Linked DNA regions of Homo sapiens. The protein of the gene in region 3 purifies or fractionates together with the protein of the main gene of each other region. This does not show direct contact. Each region holds a gene or a part of one and is shown on either strand. Other genes may lie near its edges.

Region 1 (3,500 bases), on a different chromosome or scaffold from region 3:
CTAAAAGATAGCCTGTCAGGTCTGGATTTCCAGGCAGTTGTCCAGAGAGCTAAGAAGAGGGTGGTGGTCACTGCCAGAGAGTGGCATCCTAGTATAGGGCCCGCCTAGCGTAGCCATGGGGCACAGCTGCAGCACTTGTCATCCTTAGGGCAGCTCCATCTTTGCACTAAGGTTATAAGACTGTGTTCGTCCCTTGGTGACAAGCACTGCTAACAGTTTGGCTGATCCAAGGGAACTGATCAGCTGATGGCTAAGAGAAAAGGGAGAAAACCACACACGATTTTATTCACCAGAGCATAAGATCACTGGTTTCTCAGATACAAATGCAATGTATGCAGCTAAGAGTGTGAAGTACCCATAAAATACTGTGCTAAAAGAATGTTCTTGTTTTTTTTTTTTATTGGTCCATAATGTTCAAATTCCAAAAATGAAGACATGGTTAGCATGGTTTTTGTTTTTCTCGTCTATGAATACAGGAGTAAATGTGTATTATACACACACACACACACACACACACGTGTGTATGTCTCCTCTATGTATATCTGATACCTTTACAATTAATAATATAATAAACTCTCAAATAACCTGTAGAAAGAAGTTTGCCAAAAGTGACTGAGGTTAATATACATATTCATATTTCAACCAAAATATTCCTGGCAGTGAGGAAGCAAAGGGACATCTTTAACCTTATCGATCTGTGTCCCAAGGGGAGAAATAAATATATGTTGAGGTCCAAGGCTAGCATCAGAAGATTGACCAGGTTATATGGGTACATCAGTAGTTTCCAATAACTGAGTTTTCACTGTTGCTTTTTGTTAAAGGCAGGTTTGCTCGTATTTCTGCTATTCAATCCACAAAATTCAGCCTTCTAATTACAGGGCTATGAGACAATGCCTCCATCAGCACTGAGCTGAATTTCTCCCACTTGAATATGTATATGAAAGTAAGGATATTTTTAAAGAAGGCTCAGGACTAAACTGGTGAACAATGTATAGACAGAATAAAACATATGCTCTTTTACCAGGAGGAAGTATGTACTCACAGGATTAATGTCCACAAATGTCTCATGGTCTTCCTGATTTGGGTGCATGCCTTCTATGGCAGAAACAAACCTCTCATCTGCTTGGTAAAAGTGTGGGAAAGACATAATGATGGGTGCACCTGCATTTGAAGGAAAACAGAAATGAATGATGCTGTTTTTAAAATCTAAGCTGAGCTGAATATAAAAGTTCCTGGCCACAGCCTGGTTCCTAAAGAAAAACAAAAAAGCTACATATAAATTAACTTGGGTAGGCTAAAACACCATCCTTTACCTCCTAGTTCAGGATTTATACTTCATTTTCTGACATCTCATTTACCCCCAATTTTTTATTCCACATTATATATTGAAGTTCAGGCTAAATTATTTATTCTTCAACAAATATTTACTGAAGTTAAAGTATAAGTGCTTCATACACATTATTTTATTTAATGCTCCCAACAGCCCAGTAAAGTCAGAACTATTAGCCTCACTTTGCATTTGAAGAAAGTGAGGTTCATAGAAGTTACAAAATTTACCCAGGGACAGCTAGCCATCAGGCTATGAAGGCAGAATACTAAGTGAATGAAGGGTGTTGTACCTCAAAGCACTAGTTTCAACTACAATTCTCTATCAGTAAGTGGACTGACTTTTTATTTCTTGTCCTTTTTAAAATTAAAAAAAAATTTTTGGTGGTTTTTTGTTTTGTTTTGTTTTGTTTTTACCAAAGACAGGCATAATCTCAGCTCACTGCAGCCTCCGCCTCCCAGGTTCAAGCAATTCTCCTGCCTCAGCCTCCCAAGTAGCTGGGACTACAGGCATGCACCACCACACCCGGATAATTTTTTTGTATTTTTAGTAGAGACAGCGTTTCACCATGTTGGCAAGGCTGGTCTTGAACTCCTTACCTCAAGTGATCTGCCCGCCTCAGCCTCCCAAAGTGCTGAGATTACAGGCTTGAGCCACCACACCTGGCCTACATAATTTTTTAAGAGTTAGCCTGGTTGTGCTATACACCCAGCCTCTAACCAGATCACAAAGATTCTGGGGTTTTTCCTTTCCTATTCATTTTAAGAACCAAATAAGTGCTTATGTAAATTTAAATATATATATATATATATATATATATAACCAAATAGGGAAACAAGTTACTAAAGGAAACCTATTCTAGATCTGGCTATTGAAAAGAAGAGAGGGACCCAACAATTGCTGCCAGGGAAATACATTTTTGGAGAAAGGAGCTTGTCGGCAAGTTATTTAAATTTGCTTACATATTCACCAGCCCATGGCTTAAGGAACTCATCCCTCATCTCTCACATGCACATGCATTTTGCTGTTTACTGCTGAATAGTTCCACAAAGGCATGACTTCCTTCTTTGTGACCTATAATGACCTTGAAAATGTATTTTTTAAATCTGTTGAGGGCTTAATAGGGGCTACTGTCCTGAGTGTTTTATATATATTATTTCTAACTCTCACACAACCTCAAGAAGCTATAACCACCTCCATTTTATTAATGAGAAAACTGATGTCTGGAACCCTCCTTAATAAACTTTGGCCAATTTACCAACAAATAGAATAGGACTCAAACCCAATCTGCCTGACTCCAGAACACTCATCCTGCTATCCAAAATGTTTCCCTGGAGAATTCAAAACACTGGAGGATAATCCTGGGGAGTTTCACTTCAGTCCAAATTCGGGAATACGTTAAGAGGGAAGAGGAAAAGGATTGTAGCAAGAAGTTTAAATGTGTAAAGTAGAATACTTCTGTTGATTCTGGCATCAGCTTCTTAAGGAAACAGAATTTAATAAAAACAGCAAGAGAAAATATATCTACATTTTTGCTTTGAGCCAGATGCACACCAGATGAGGGGGCAGGGACACTGTTTCAGGACTATTACCAGTAAGGCAATGGGGGAGATCACAACCAGGAACTTGTTCCCATTCACCCTTGGTCTTTATCTCCAGGTAAAGGGTACCATGTTCCCTTGCACAATGGTCCCCAAATACCTAGACGCCATCTTTATGGAAATCAGCTGGAGTACTTGTTAAAAGTGTAGATTCTGGGGCCCTGGTATATCCAACATGGGACCCTGGGACATACATGCATGTGTGTGCACCATGAGTGTGTGTGCACACTTGCGCACGTGTGTGTGTATACCTATATATATATACTATATACATATATATTAAAATATAGCAAATATAAGTATATGCAAATATATGCATATTTATATATAACTATAAAATTTGTTAATATACTCATATATTAACAAATATATTAACATATACATACATAAATATATACATGTGGCTGTTAAAACTAGTCTTCAAGATGAAAAATACTTTTGTCAGTTGTATATATATATGTATATATACACATATATATGATATACGTATATATAAACAATTTTTTATATATATATAATTTTTTTGTTTTTTGAGACCAGGTCTCACTCTGTTGCCCAGGCTGGAGTGCAGT
Region 2 (4,300 bases), on a different chromosome or scaffold from region 3:
CAGGTAGAATAAGCCAAAGCGGGTTTTGTGAAAGTCCCTGTGTTGCAGGATACCTGCAAATCTGCTTTGAGCATGGCATTAATGTGCAAGGTCTATAACCTTCCCACCCAAATGGGATGGGCTGCTATCAGACTCCTCACACTGAAAAGCAATGGGCACAAACTCATGTGATGCCTTTTAACCCAGGACATTTTGATTTGTAAACTCCTCAAATACCACAACAAAATGGGAAAAATTTAGTTACAAAGACTTTTTTTTTCATTTTTAACCTTTTGCCTGGATAGTTAATTCATTTCAAGAAACAATAAGCTGCAACAAGGGCTTATTTATTACTTTAACATTAATTTCCCCCAATTAATAAGACCTAAATTCTCATGCATAAACAGGAAAACAAATTCACTGCAAATTTTAAAGGAAAACTCATTGAGAGAAGAATGTTAAACGATACTTCAAAATACGGTAACTTCCAAACTCCATCAAACATTAATTATTGAAATTCTACTTAAAAAAGTTCTCCACTAAAAAGTACTGTAAATATTCCATTATTATAGGCATGTGGCCAAAATGTGAAAAAATAATCAAAGATACTTTTTCAATTAAGGCCCTACACAGCTCAGAAATGGTGATAAATCTGTTAATTTAAAACAGTCAATATCACTGGGATAAGAGTTTATCAAACTCAAAGGCAATTTTCAGTGAGAATAACACTAAGGTGTAAATTTCATGGCAAAAGAAAAGATGTCAGACTTAAACCACATTAACTATGAAGAACTAGACAACTAATGTGTCATTATATATATAAAAAAGATGACTGTGGATGGGGACAAGTGGGGAGGCAGACAGTGGCAACCTCTGGAAGATGGAATCTCTTCTCTCTGCTGGTCCTAGAAGAGAAAAGAGACACCAATAAGCATCAACACACTGTCCGAATTCCTCCCCACCCGAGACCCACCAGTCCACAGGTGTTTCTCAACCTTGGGGCCAACCTCACCTTCAGAGATGGTATTCAGTACAAAGAGGGCGTCAAAACCCCCGCCTTATCTTAACTTGCCTAGTGCCCTCTTTAAAAAATAAAAACTATCAAAATATATTACTTTTTTTATAACTATAATCTGCATCAAGTGGAACTGAAAGCAGCCGGGCTGAAATTAGTAACTCTTACAGTGCATAGGGATAATAGCTTTCCAAAACCTTTGCACTCAACTATTTTAAATTATAAAGAGGTCATTATGTGTAACTTAAAAGTTTTGAATTCTACATGAGTTGGTGTGTGTGTACAAAGCAAGGGGCTACAACCAAATTTTGGGGTTGTAACTGTTGTTTGTAATGACTTCCATTCAATGTATGCAGGTCATGGAGAAGATGGGGAGATGGAGTTGTTTACAGCAAGCTGACAGGGAAATTAATCAAGTTGTACTATTTGAAACAAGTTATCCTCACCCTGAAAAGCACCCCTAAAACAACTGAAATTCAAAAAATAATGATACAAACAAGTAATTTAGAGTGACGGCAAATAATTTCCTCAATTCTTTAAAACAAATAGAATTCTACAGAATCTGCTTTTCCTAGGTAGTAGATCTAGCTGGTAGTTCCAAACTAAGTGGAACATTCTTACCCAACCTACTACAGCTTACACAACTCTGATTCACTGTTATTTTCTCACATATCCTTGTGGAAGACCTAGTCACAAGAAATTATGTCCAAAGCAAATCCTATAGGAAGTAATTTTTAAATTCAGACACTCGAGACTAAGATCTAAATGTACACAATAGGGAGTTAACTGATTTAAATTAAATAAACAGTATCTAAGTTTCCACGTTACCAGTCATTGCTTTTCTAGGGATTGTGCTGGGCACTGGCGGATACAAAAACTCGAGTGAGACACAATTTTGGACGTAAAATGGCAATGAAAGCGCATTTCTGGAAGCCCTGAAAGTCTGAAAACAGAGGCTCTTCTGGACTCACAAGCTCTGGGTCAAGAAGATATATTTTCATCTTGTTAAGACGGATTTTGCAACTAAGACTGGTAAAGCATAAGATAGAAGAGTGCGTACCCTGTTGTATTTGCATGGTTCTTGCCAGCAACCAAGACATGTAATGAATCTAAGTCTCATCACCTGACAGAGGTTTAGGGAGGGAGAGCCATACATGAAAAGACTGAGAAATCTGGATTGATATTTGGTTTTGTGAAACCATAAATAATTTTAGAGTTGGAAAAGACTTAGACAACACTATTAACAAAGGAATTCAGAAACGCAAACATTAGTAAGTCATCTGCACAACGCCTACTCCTTTATTTACGAAACACTAAAATAACCAAAGTAAAAACAAATGTTTGACCAAGCCGACCACGTGTTTTTATACTACCTTTTCTTAGTGCCTCAAATGTCTTCCTAAATCAAGTGCACCTGCTGCAAAGATGGAACATTCTGGTGCGAGAGCCCAGAGCAGAGCACGTTTTCGTTCCCCAAGCTGAGGCAACTGCGACTCGCCCGCGCGACCGGCAAGGCCACCTCACAGACAAGGCTGTCCTCGACCCAGCCCGCCGCCGCGCGGCCGCCCACGAGCCTTGGGCCCCACGCGCGCGAGCGCCGCCCGCGCCCCCGCCGACCTCCCACCGCCAGCGGCTCCGCACCCGGCGCCCGCAGCCCTCGTACCTCACACCGCTGCTCCGAAAGCCCCGGAACGCACTCCCGGGCTCTCCCGGTGCCCTTACGGAGGGTGCTGTGCTTCTGCCCAACGCCGGCGCTCGGCCAAGGCGGCCGCGGAGCAGCGAGAAGCCGCGGACCGGCACCGTCATGGCCGCGGATCCCCGGCTTCCGGACTGGGGCTCCACCTCCCGCGACTCCAGTCCTCGCGGCTGGAGGCCTGGCTCCGCCCTCACCCGGGCTGGCAGGGCAGCAAGTAGCGCTTCCCAGCCAGGTTCCGGCAGACACGCAGAGTGGGGTAAAGAGCGGTTCCCAGGACCGGGGACGGAACTGACAGAGTGCCGGGTCCGCAGGGGGCGGGGCCAGGACCCAAGTCCCGGGCCCTCTGAGGATGTGGAAGCGTGCAGTGTGGCCTGGCGACTGGGCCCCGCACCCAGCCAACATATAGCTGGCATTCCCATAGCGACGGCACAGAGAAGGCCTCCAAACTATCACTTTAGGCAGCACGCCCCACTTTCCACCAAGCCAGAGATCCTGCCCAACAGTCTCCGTGACTACGTGGAATTGGATTTAAAGCAGGAAAGAAGTAATAGGTTCATTGTTTCCCACTTCCTTTGTGAGATTCCTTGGAAGTTGGAGAAAAGAACAAAGGTGTGTGGAGAAGGAGCAAAACCTGGCTGAACAAGGAAGGTCTGGACTTTAGGATTTCTATACTTCTACTTTATCATCTCCACTTTTGGAAGGAAATATTGACCAATATCTGTCTTTTCCTGAGTTATGATCAAGTCGATGCAGGCTAAGAACCCTGCATTGTGTGGTGAGCTTGTGTGGTGAGGAAGCAAAATATCTGCTCCCTCTGAAAAAGTAAAACATTAGACTGTCCATTCATTTTGCAAATTAAGACAGACACACAAAAAACAGTCACAGATAAAACCAGCTGGGAAGTTAACAGGAAACAACTTTTCTCCCAAGGTCAGGCTGCTGCTGTTGAGTCAGAACAACGTCTTTCATAGCTGCACTTTTACTGAGAAAACTTGTTTTTTAAAATCATAGACTGTCAGAAAATATGCTCTTTAAAATCATATCAATAAGAATGGGATACCCTACTCTTTCCTGGCTGATCTAAATCCATTTGACACAAATAAGCAGCCTAGAAGAAAATACAGGAAAAAATCTAGGTGACCTTGGGTTTGGCAATGAGACTTTAGATAAAACACTTAAATCACAATTCATAAAAGAAAAAAACAATTTAAACTTCTGCCATGCAAAAGACACTGTTAATAAAGAAACAAATCACATACTGGGAGAAAATATTCGCAAAACATTTTTACAAGACTTACACCCAAAATATACGAAGAACTCTTGAAACTCAACAATTAAAGAAAAAAGAAAAGCAACTCAGTTAAAAGTGAGCAAAAGATCTGAAAACACCCACCAAAAAAGGCATACAGAGGTCAAAAAAAATGGAAAAATATTCAATATCATTTATCATTAAGGAAATACAAATTAAAACAACAGTGAGATACCACTACACTCCCATTAGAACCGCTGAAGTCCAAAAAATTGATAATACGAAATGCTGGCAAGGATGTGTGGCAACAGGAACTCTCATTCATTGTTGGTGAATAAAAAAATGATTCAGTCACTTTGGA
Region 3 (3,500 bases):
GCAGTGGCACTATCTCAGCTCACTGCAACCTCCGCCTCCCGAGTTCAAGCAATTCTCCTGCCTCAAGCTCCCAAATAGCTGGGACTAGAGGTGCGTGCCACCACGCCTGGCTACTTTTTGTATTTTTTCAGTACAGACGGGGTTTCACCATATTGGCCAGGCTGGTCTTGAACTCCTGACTTTCTAATCTACCCACCTCGGCCTCCCAAAGTGCTAGGATTACGGGCTTGAGCCACCACGCCTGGCATATTTTTTCTTTTTTTTATATAGGGTCTCACTCCTGTTGCTGAGGCAGGAGTGCAGTGGTACAATTACAGCTTCATTGCAGCCTCGACCTCACAGGCCCAAGTGATCCTCCCACCTCATTTAAAAATTTTTTTGTATAAACAAGGTCTCACTATGTTGCCCAGGCTGGTCTTGAACTTATGGACTCAAGCAATCCTTCCAGAGCTGGGATTACAGGCATACGCCACTGCGCCTGGCCTTTTTATTTTCAAACAGTTACTAAGCGGTTATAAAAAATACTCATGTTGTTTGGGTATAACTATTTAACAAAACTATTAGGTATTTCTTTTGGCCTATGGGTGTCAAAAAAAATTTACTGATAATAACCAGTGTTGTTAAGGATGTAGAGAAACTGGAATCCTTGTACATTGCTGGAAAGAATGTAAAATGAGACAGCTGCTATGGAAAATGGTATGGTGGTTCTTCAAAAAATAAAAGAATTACCATATGATCCAGCAATCCCACTTCTGGGCATATACCCAAAAGAATTCAGAGCTGGGACTTGAACAGATCCATGTTCATAGCAGCATTATTCACAATAGTCAAAGGATGGCAGCAACCCAAGTGTCCATGGACAGATGGATAAACAAAATATTGTGGTATATGCATACAATGAATATTACTCATCTTTAAAAAGGAAGGAAATTCTGACACATGCTACAATATGGATAAACCTCGAAGACATTATGCTAAGTGAAATAAGCCAGTCACAAAAGCACAAATATTACATGAGTCTACTTGTATGAGGTACCAGTAGTAGTCAAATTCATAAAGTAGAATGATGGCTGTCAGGGGCTGAGGGATGAGGGGGATGGGGGAGGGAAGATGGAGAGTTAGTGTTGAATGTGTATAGAGTTTGAGAAGATGAAAAAGTTCTGGAGATGGATGTTGGTGATGGCTGTGGAACAATGGATATTCTTAATGCTACAGGACTGTATGCTTAAAAATAGTTAAAATGGTAAATTTTGTGTCATATATATTTTATCACAACAAAATTTTTTTTTTTTACTGAAACACTAAGACCACTATAAACTGAGAAAGTTTGGGGATCAATGTGCATAGAGTACCTAGATGACTCCTGTTAACTATTATTCACATGGATACAATTTTACCTCTTATTCCCAATGAGCATGATAACCATGTTGGAACTAGAGTGCTGCCGGGCATCCTCTAACCATGAGGTCAGGTGGTTGAAGGTTTCACGCCTACAGCAGAAAAATTTAGAATGTGGGTCAGAGACACATTTCAAAAGGCCAAAACAACTCCAAGCGTATACGAAAAGAGGGGAAGCCATACGTGTAAAGAAAAATATTAGAGAGGCCATTCCTAGTTAACATCCTTAACAGAATCAGTAGATAGAAAAAAAAAAAAAGCTTTAGAGGATTTAGGGAAGAATCTCCCTCCCATGCACCAGATCTGGCTCACCTTGTAATGTCGTACACCAGCAGTGCTCCAGCTGCTCCCCTGTAGTAGGAACGGGTGATAGAACGGAAGGATTCTTGCCCAGCCTTTCCCACCAACATGGCAACAAAAAATCCCAACAAAACCAGGTTATTTCCACAGAACCGACTTGATCACATGCCACCCTAATACAAAGGACTTAACTAAAAAAAGAATTTCTATTACGAAAAGAGAATTAGGGAAAGAAAACATGCCTGCCCGAGAAGAAACCCAAGTGGGAAATCAATATTTTTCTATGGGAGTGCATTGATATTTTGGGCAGTCACTTACTCTTCCTGAGAGACTGTCCATCAGATTAGTGGATGTTTAGCATCCTAGATCCCAGTCACTAAATACCTGTGGCACCCCAGTCAGCACGATAAAGACGATGAAGACATTTGCATACATTTCCCAATATCCTCATAAAAGAACAACTGGAAATAGGACTGGAAACGGAGTGTATGTCATTTTTTTCAATCCCAAATATGATATTGAACACACCATATTAATCTTTCTGTTCCCATTTCTTTATCTGTAAAAAGGAAAGTTATCTTAGAATGCCAAAACCTGGTCTAATAGAAATTTCATTCCAATGAATCAATATAAAAATTAGATTAAAAGCACTTCAACTGATTATCTTCTAACTGACCTTTAGTGTTCCACTGATAATGCAAGACTACCTAGATGTCCCTTGCTGGGCTTCTGTCATGGGAAATAGGAATAACAAACAGAGAAAGAAGCCCAGGGCCCAGCATAGAGTTTTCCTAGAAAAATCCAAATGTTCACACTCTAATCTCATTTCCAGTTGGACAAAGATATTAAGTTCTATTTAAAACTGAGTAATTTATTAATGCCCCCATAATACTGGGTACTTTTGCTTTCTTGATGGACTAGTTCTTTTTTTTTCCTTTAGGGAAAACAAAAACATTTTTTAAATAATATGAATACCCTGTACATTGAATCTATCCTATTAAGAAAGTTTTCACATTCTTGAAATAATTTATCCTTACATCCCTACATAACAGGAGGTAAGACTATAATTTATAGGTTACAAATGGGAGAATCATGATTAAGGATGTGGGAAAATAAATGGCTTTCTCATAGTATAATACCAGTAACAGTGGTAACACTAATTATAACACTGCAATAGTACTATAAACTACTTTTTGGCATATAAAATGTGCTACGAACTTTAAGAGACAATTACATATATTATTTCATTTACTTCTCTTAGCAACCCTGGGGCCGATATTATTATTCCCTTTTTTTTTTTCTTTTTTTTTTTGAGAGGGAGTCTCGCTCTGTTGCCCGGGCTGGAGTGCAGTGGCGCAATCTTGGCTCACTGCAACCTCCGCCTCCCAGGTTCAAGCAATTCTCCTTGCTTCAGCCTCCCAATTAGCTGGGATTACAGGCGCCCACCACCATGCCTGGCTAATTTTTTTGTATTTTTGGTAGAGATGGGTTTTCACTATGTTGGCTAGGCTGGTCTTGAACTCCTGACCTCATGACCCACCCGCCTCGGCCTCCCAAAGTGCTGGGATTACAGGCATGAGCCACCGTGCCTGGCTTATTATTTCCTTTTAAAAATGGGGAAAATGAGGCTCACACAAGTTTAATAAACGGCCCCAAATCATAAAGCTTATTAAGTGCTAGAGCCATAATTTAAACTTAGGATCTTAGTACTTCCTAGGACAAAAACTTGTCCTCTTAGCCACTATATCATATAACCTAAACTGGGGTTTGTAGGTGAGAAGAGAATTCCAGTATACTAACTC
Region 4 (3,500 bases), on a different chromosome or scaffold from region 3:
TCCTCGCCTTCTCCTAACTTACCTTCATTTTCTAATTCTCAACTCATGGATGCCCTAAGAGCATTACTCTGTCAGCAAGCTTCTTTGTAAAATGGGTCTTTACATTAGGTATTAACTTCTGCTATATTTCCACCTGTCTGGGTCTACAAATCAAATAAGTTTTTGGGGAAAATAAGAATGAGTAGGAATGAATGATTCCTTATTTGTTGCTGGCCTTTCTTTGGCTATTGTGACCCTTTAGCTTGGTAGTACAGCTTCTCTGCAGTAGACATTGGGAGGATATGAAGCTCCATCACACCCACACTCATCTCCCTGCCTCTGGCTCCCCGTTCCACTCCAGTCAATCCCATGCAGCCAAAACAAGATTCCACAGCACTTACTCAATTGAAGTATTCATTCAGCTAAGTATGAGTTTGTTTTATGCACCATGTACTTGAAATCTGAAAGTTTAGTACATTTGCATTCTAATGGCTTTCTTGCCTTTCATCCCTCTCCAATGCCCCCTCCACCATGCTGTCAAAAGTGGAATTTCTAAAAAGCACTACCTGATTATGTCGTTTCTTTGTTGAGACTGTTGGTTAGGGTTCATGCTGGCTTCTTGGTAGCATAGTCCAGGCTATGTGACTTGCTGCCTGATATGGTTTGGCTGTGTCTGCACCCAAATCTCATTGGATTGTAATAATTCCCACGTGTTAAAGGTGGGGCCAGGCGGAGATAATTGAATCATGGGAGCAGTTTTTCCCATACTATTCTCGTGGTAGTGAATGAGTCTCACAAGATCTGATGGTTTTATAAATGGGAGTTCCCCTGCACCTGCTGTCTCTTGTCTGCTGCCATGTAAGACATGACTTTGCTCCTCCTTTGCCTTCTGCCATGATTGTGAGGCCTCCCCAGCTATGTGAAACTGTGAGTTCATTAAACCTCTTTTTCTTTATAAATTACCCAGTCTCAGGTATGTCTTTATTAGCAGCATGAGAACAGACTAATACGTCACCGCTGCTGTTCCCTACCTCCAGGCCTCTGCACTGCAGTGTTCTCTCTCAGGAGTCATTGACCCTTATTCACTTGTTCACCTGGCACACTTTCCCTCTTTCTCTGTGCTTTCTCCTGGACTTTACACCTGCTTCTGTCTTGGTTGGTTCATTCATTCAACCAACAAATATTAATGTGTTCCATTGTGTGTCATGCTGGGGATATAGGAATGACAAGTGCACTGCCCACATAGAGGGGAGGCAAGTAATCAAATGAACAGAGGAATGGTTTCAGATGCTGGGAAGAAATAAGACGGCAATGTGATAGGGGCTGGATAGGCTTGGACAAAGTGGCCAGAGAAGTTTTCTCCAAAGAGGGGATGTTTAGGCTGAGTGCTGAACAACCGGGTTAGCCAGCCATGGAAGCCTCTGGGAGGAAGCTCTCAGTGCTGAGAAAATAGCACCTGCAATCACCCTAAGGTGAGAAGAGGATTTCCCAGGGCCAGTGTGGCTGGAGCAGAGAGAAGGAGGCAGGGTGGATAAGTGCACTGGAAACTGCTGGAGGATTTCAGCAGGGGAATCATGTAATGCTTTCTGTTGAAGCTGCACTGATCATTTCATGTTGTCAGTGGTTCATTTGCACACATCTCTGTTAAAGTGTGAGCCGTATGAAGGCAGTTATTCTCTGTGGATCCCCAGAACCTAGCCCAGAGGACTGGCAGGAAACATTTGGGGACTTAATGAATGAAAGAATCTGTGTTTTCTTTTGATGTGTTCTGTGTAAGTGGTAGAATCATTTAACACATTTTAAATAACATTTTCTGTTTAATAAAATCTGGTCATTATGGTACTAGGACACTGAACAAGGAAATGCCCCAGAATTTTTCAAAACTATAGGGTATTAGTCCAGATGTTCTTTTCAGCCTTTGAAGCAGTACCACAGAAATGTTAAGTAGAATCTTGATGGCTGGAAAAGAATGAAAAACCATGACATTTAAAAAATAAAAACCGTAAGTAGCAGAGTAGAACCTCATGATAAGGCAGATACACATATGACAAACACAATGGCTTTTGTTCTCCAAAGGAGGCAGGCAAAAGTTCATCTCCTCCGGCGGGGGAGCAGTGGGGAGCAGGGGTTGGTAGGAGGTGGTCATCTGATTAATTCAGGATTTCTTTAGTTCACTAAGAGGGCAGTTTTGTATGTGGTTTAAATTTCATTATCTTTACTTTCATGCTCTTTGAAAATATGGACTACCAGAGAAATACTATTTTTCATTAACTACACAATAATGTCACCTTGCATGTTATGTGATTTACTTTCTGGATCTAAGTTTTAGTGTTTACGGTGAACTTTTACTCAACAGTATTTTTCTATTACGATTTTAATTTCTAGCTTATAGGTATTCTCCATTAAATCATGAGTTTTTTTTCTGAATCCAGTTGGAAACCCTAATTTATATCTGCCTGTGTCCCATTAAATAAAACTATATTTGAATCTCTCATGGTAAATTCATGATTCGATGAAAAGAGCATGTCTACCACCGTAATGGCACCCAGTCTTAGCTTATTTTTGTTTTTCATCCTGTAGTTTCTCTACCATCCTAGTCTTAAGTAGGATTTTTTTCTGATTACTTCTTCTTCCATTTTTACTTAAAAATTACCCTACAGGTTAATTGAGGGATTTAAAACATAGTATACCAAGTAGATTTGGACATTTTTTAAAGATGGAAATATTTTCCTCTACAGAGACTTCAGCAACACAGAAACACTGTGTAGTGAACAAAAATATTATTGTGAAACATGCTGCAGCAAACAAGAAGCCCAGAAAAGGTAGGTAAAGATTTAGCTCAGGGTTATCTTTGTGTGGTGAGAAGGATCCCGACTGTGGGGCCCAGCAGGGTTGGCTTTGAATCAATCTCAGCTACCTGGGCTTGTAGCCATGGAGCCTTGGGGAAGTCAGTTATCCTCCTCACCAGTGAAACTGGGATAAGAACGCTGACCTTGGAGAGAACAACTTGGAGAGTTGTCTGTCCGATTGTTTACTTATTTGTTTATTCATTCAGTCATTCAGCAAATATTTGTTGAGCCCTGCCATGTGCCAGATATTATGCTAGATAAACAAGTAATGATTAAATATAATCACTATTCTCTTGAGATTAAAGGTAAATTATATAAAGTACTTAGCAGAGTATATAACACATAGTAGACACCCAATATTATTTTTGTTTGTATTGCTTAAACATTAGGACCTCTTATTTAGAGACAGAGGTTTAAAAAATATATATCATTTCATAAGGACTCATGAGGAAATTATTAACACATCAGTTATAAGAATAGGTGATTAGAGGCTGGGCACAGTGGCTCACACCTATAATCCCAGCATTTTGGGAGGCCAAGACAGGCCGATCATTTGAGGTCAGGAGTTTGAGACCAGCCTGGCCAACATGGTGAAACCCCGTCTCTACTAAAAACACAAAAATTAGCTGGGCATGGTGCCAGGTGCCTATGATCCCACCTACTCGGGAGGCT

Evidence for each region.
Region 1: the proteins of RAB2B (region 3) and SCARB2 purify together in Homo sapiens (co-immunoprecipitation; 2 studies listed by BioGRID and IntAct, with this or other methods). This does not show direct contact.
Region 2: the proteins of RAB2B (region 3) and MTHFD2L purify together in Homo sapiens (affinity purification with mass spectrometry; one large-scale study listed by BioGRID and IntAct). This does not show direct contact.
Region 4: the proteins of RAB2B (region 3) and USP46 purify together in Homo sapiens (co-immunoprecipitation; one large-scale study listed by IntAct). This does not show direct contact.

What each region holds. Positions count from the first base shown.
Region 1 is NC_000004.12:76,168,825-76,172,324, forward strand, and holds part of SCARB2 (lysosome membrane protein 2), read right to left. Parts: intron 1,162-3,500; coding exon 1,043-1,161; intron 1-1,042.
Region 2 is NC_000004.12:74,156,639-74,160,938, reverse strand, and holds the start of MTHFD2L (bifunctional methylenetetrahydrofolate dehydrogenase/cyclohydrolase 2, mitochondrial), read right to left. Parts: upstream 2,801-4,300; coding exon 2,658-2,800; intron 885-2,657; coding exon of another isoform or gene 791-884; exon of another isoform or gene 1-790. UniProt on the Homo sapiens protein: Bifunctional mitochondrial folate-interconverting enzyme that has both NAD/NADP-dependent methylenetetrahydrofolate dehydrogenase and methenyltetrahydrofolate cyclohydrolase activities.
Region 3 is NC_000014.9:21,466,960-21,470,459, forward strand, and holds part of RAB2B (ras-related protein Rab-2B), read right to left. Parts: intron 2,258-3,500; exon of another isoform or gene 2,250-2,257; coding exon of another isoform or gene 2,227-2,249; intron 2,221-2,226; exon of another isoform or gene 2,134-2,220; coding exon of another isoform or gene 2,083-2,133; intron 1,794-2,082; coding exon 1,711-1,793; intron 1,491-1,710; coding exon 1,398-1,490; intron 1-1,397. UniProt on the Homo sapiens protein: The small GTPases Rab are key regulators of intracellular membrane trafficking, from the formation of transport vesicles to their fusion with membranes. Rabs cycle between active GTP-bound and inactive GDP-bound states.
Region 4 is NC_000004.12:52,603,802-52,607,301, reverse strand, and holds part of USP46 (ubiquitin carboxyl-terminal hydrolase 46), read left to right. Parts: intron 1-2,717; coding exon 2,718-2,801; intron 2,802-3,500. UniProt on the Homo sapiens protein: Deubiquitinating enzyme that plays a role in behavior, possibly by regulating GABA action. May act by mediating the deubiquitination of GAD1/GAD67.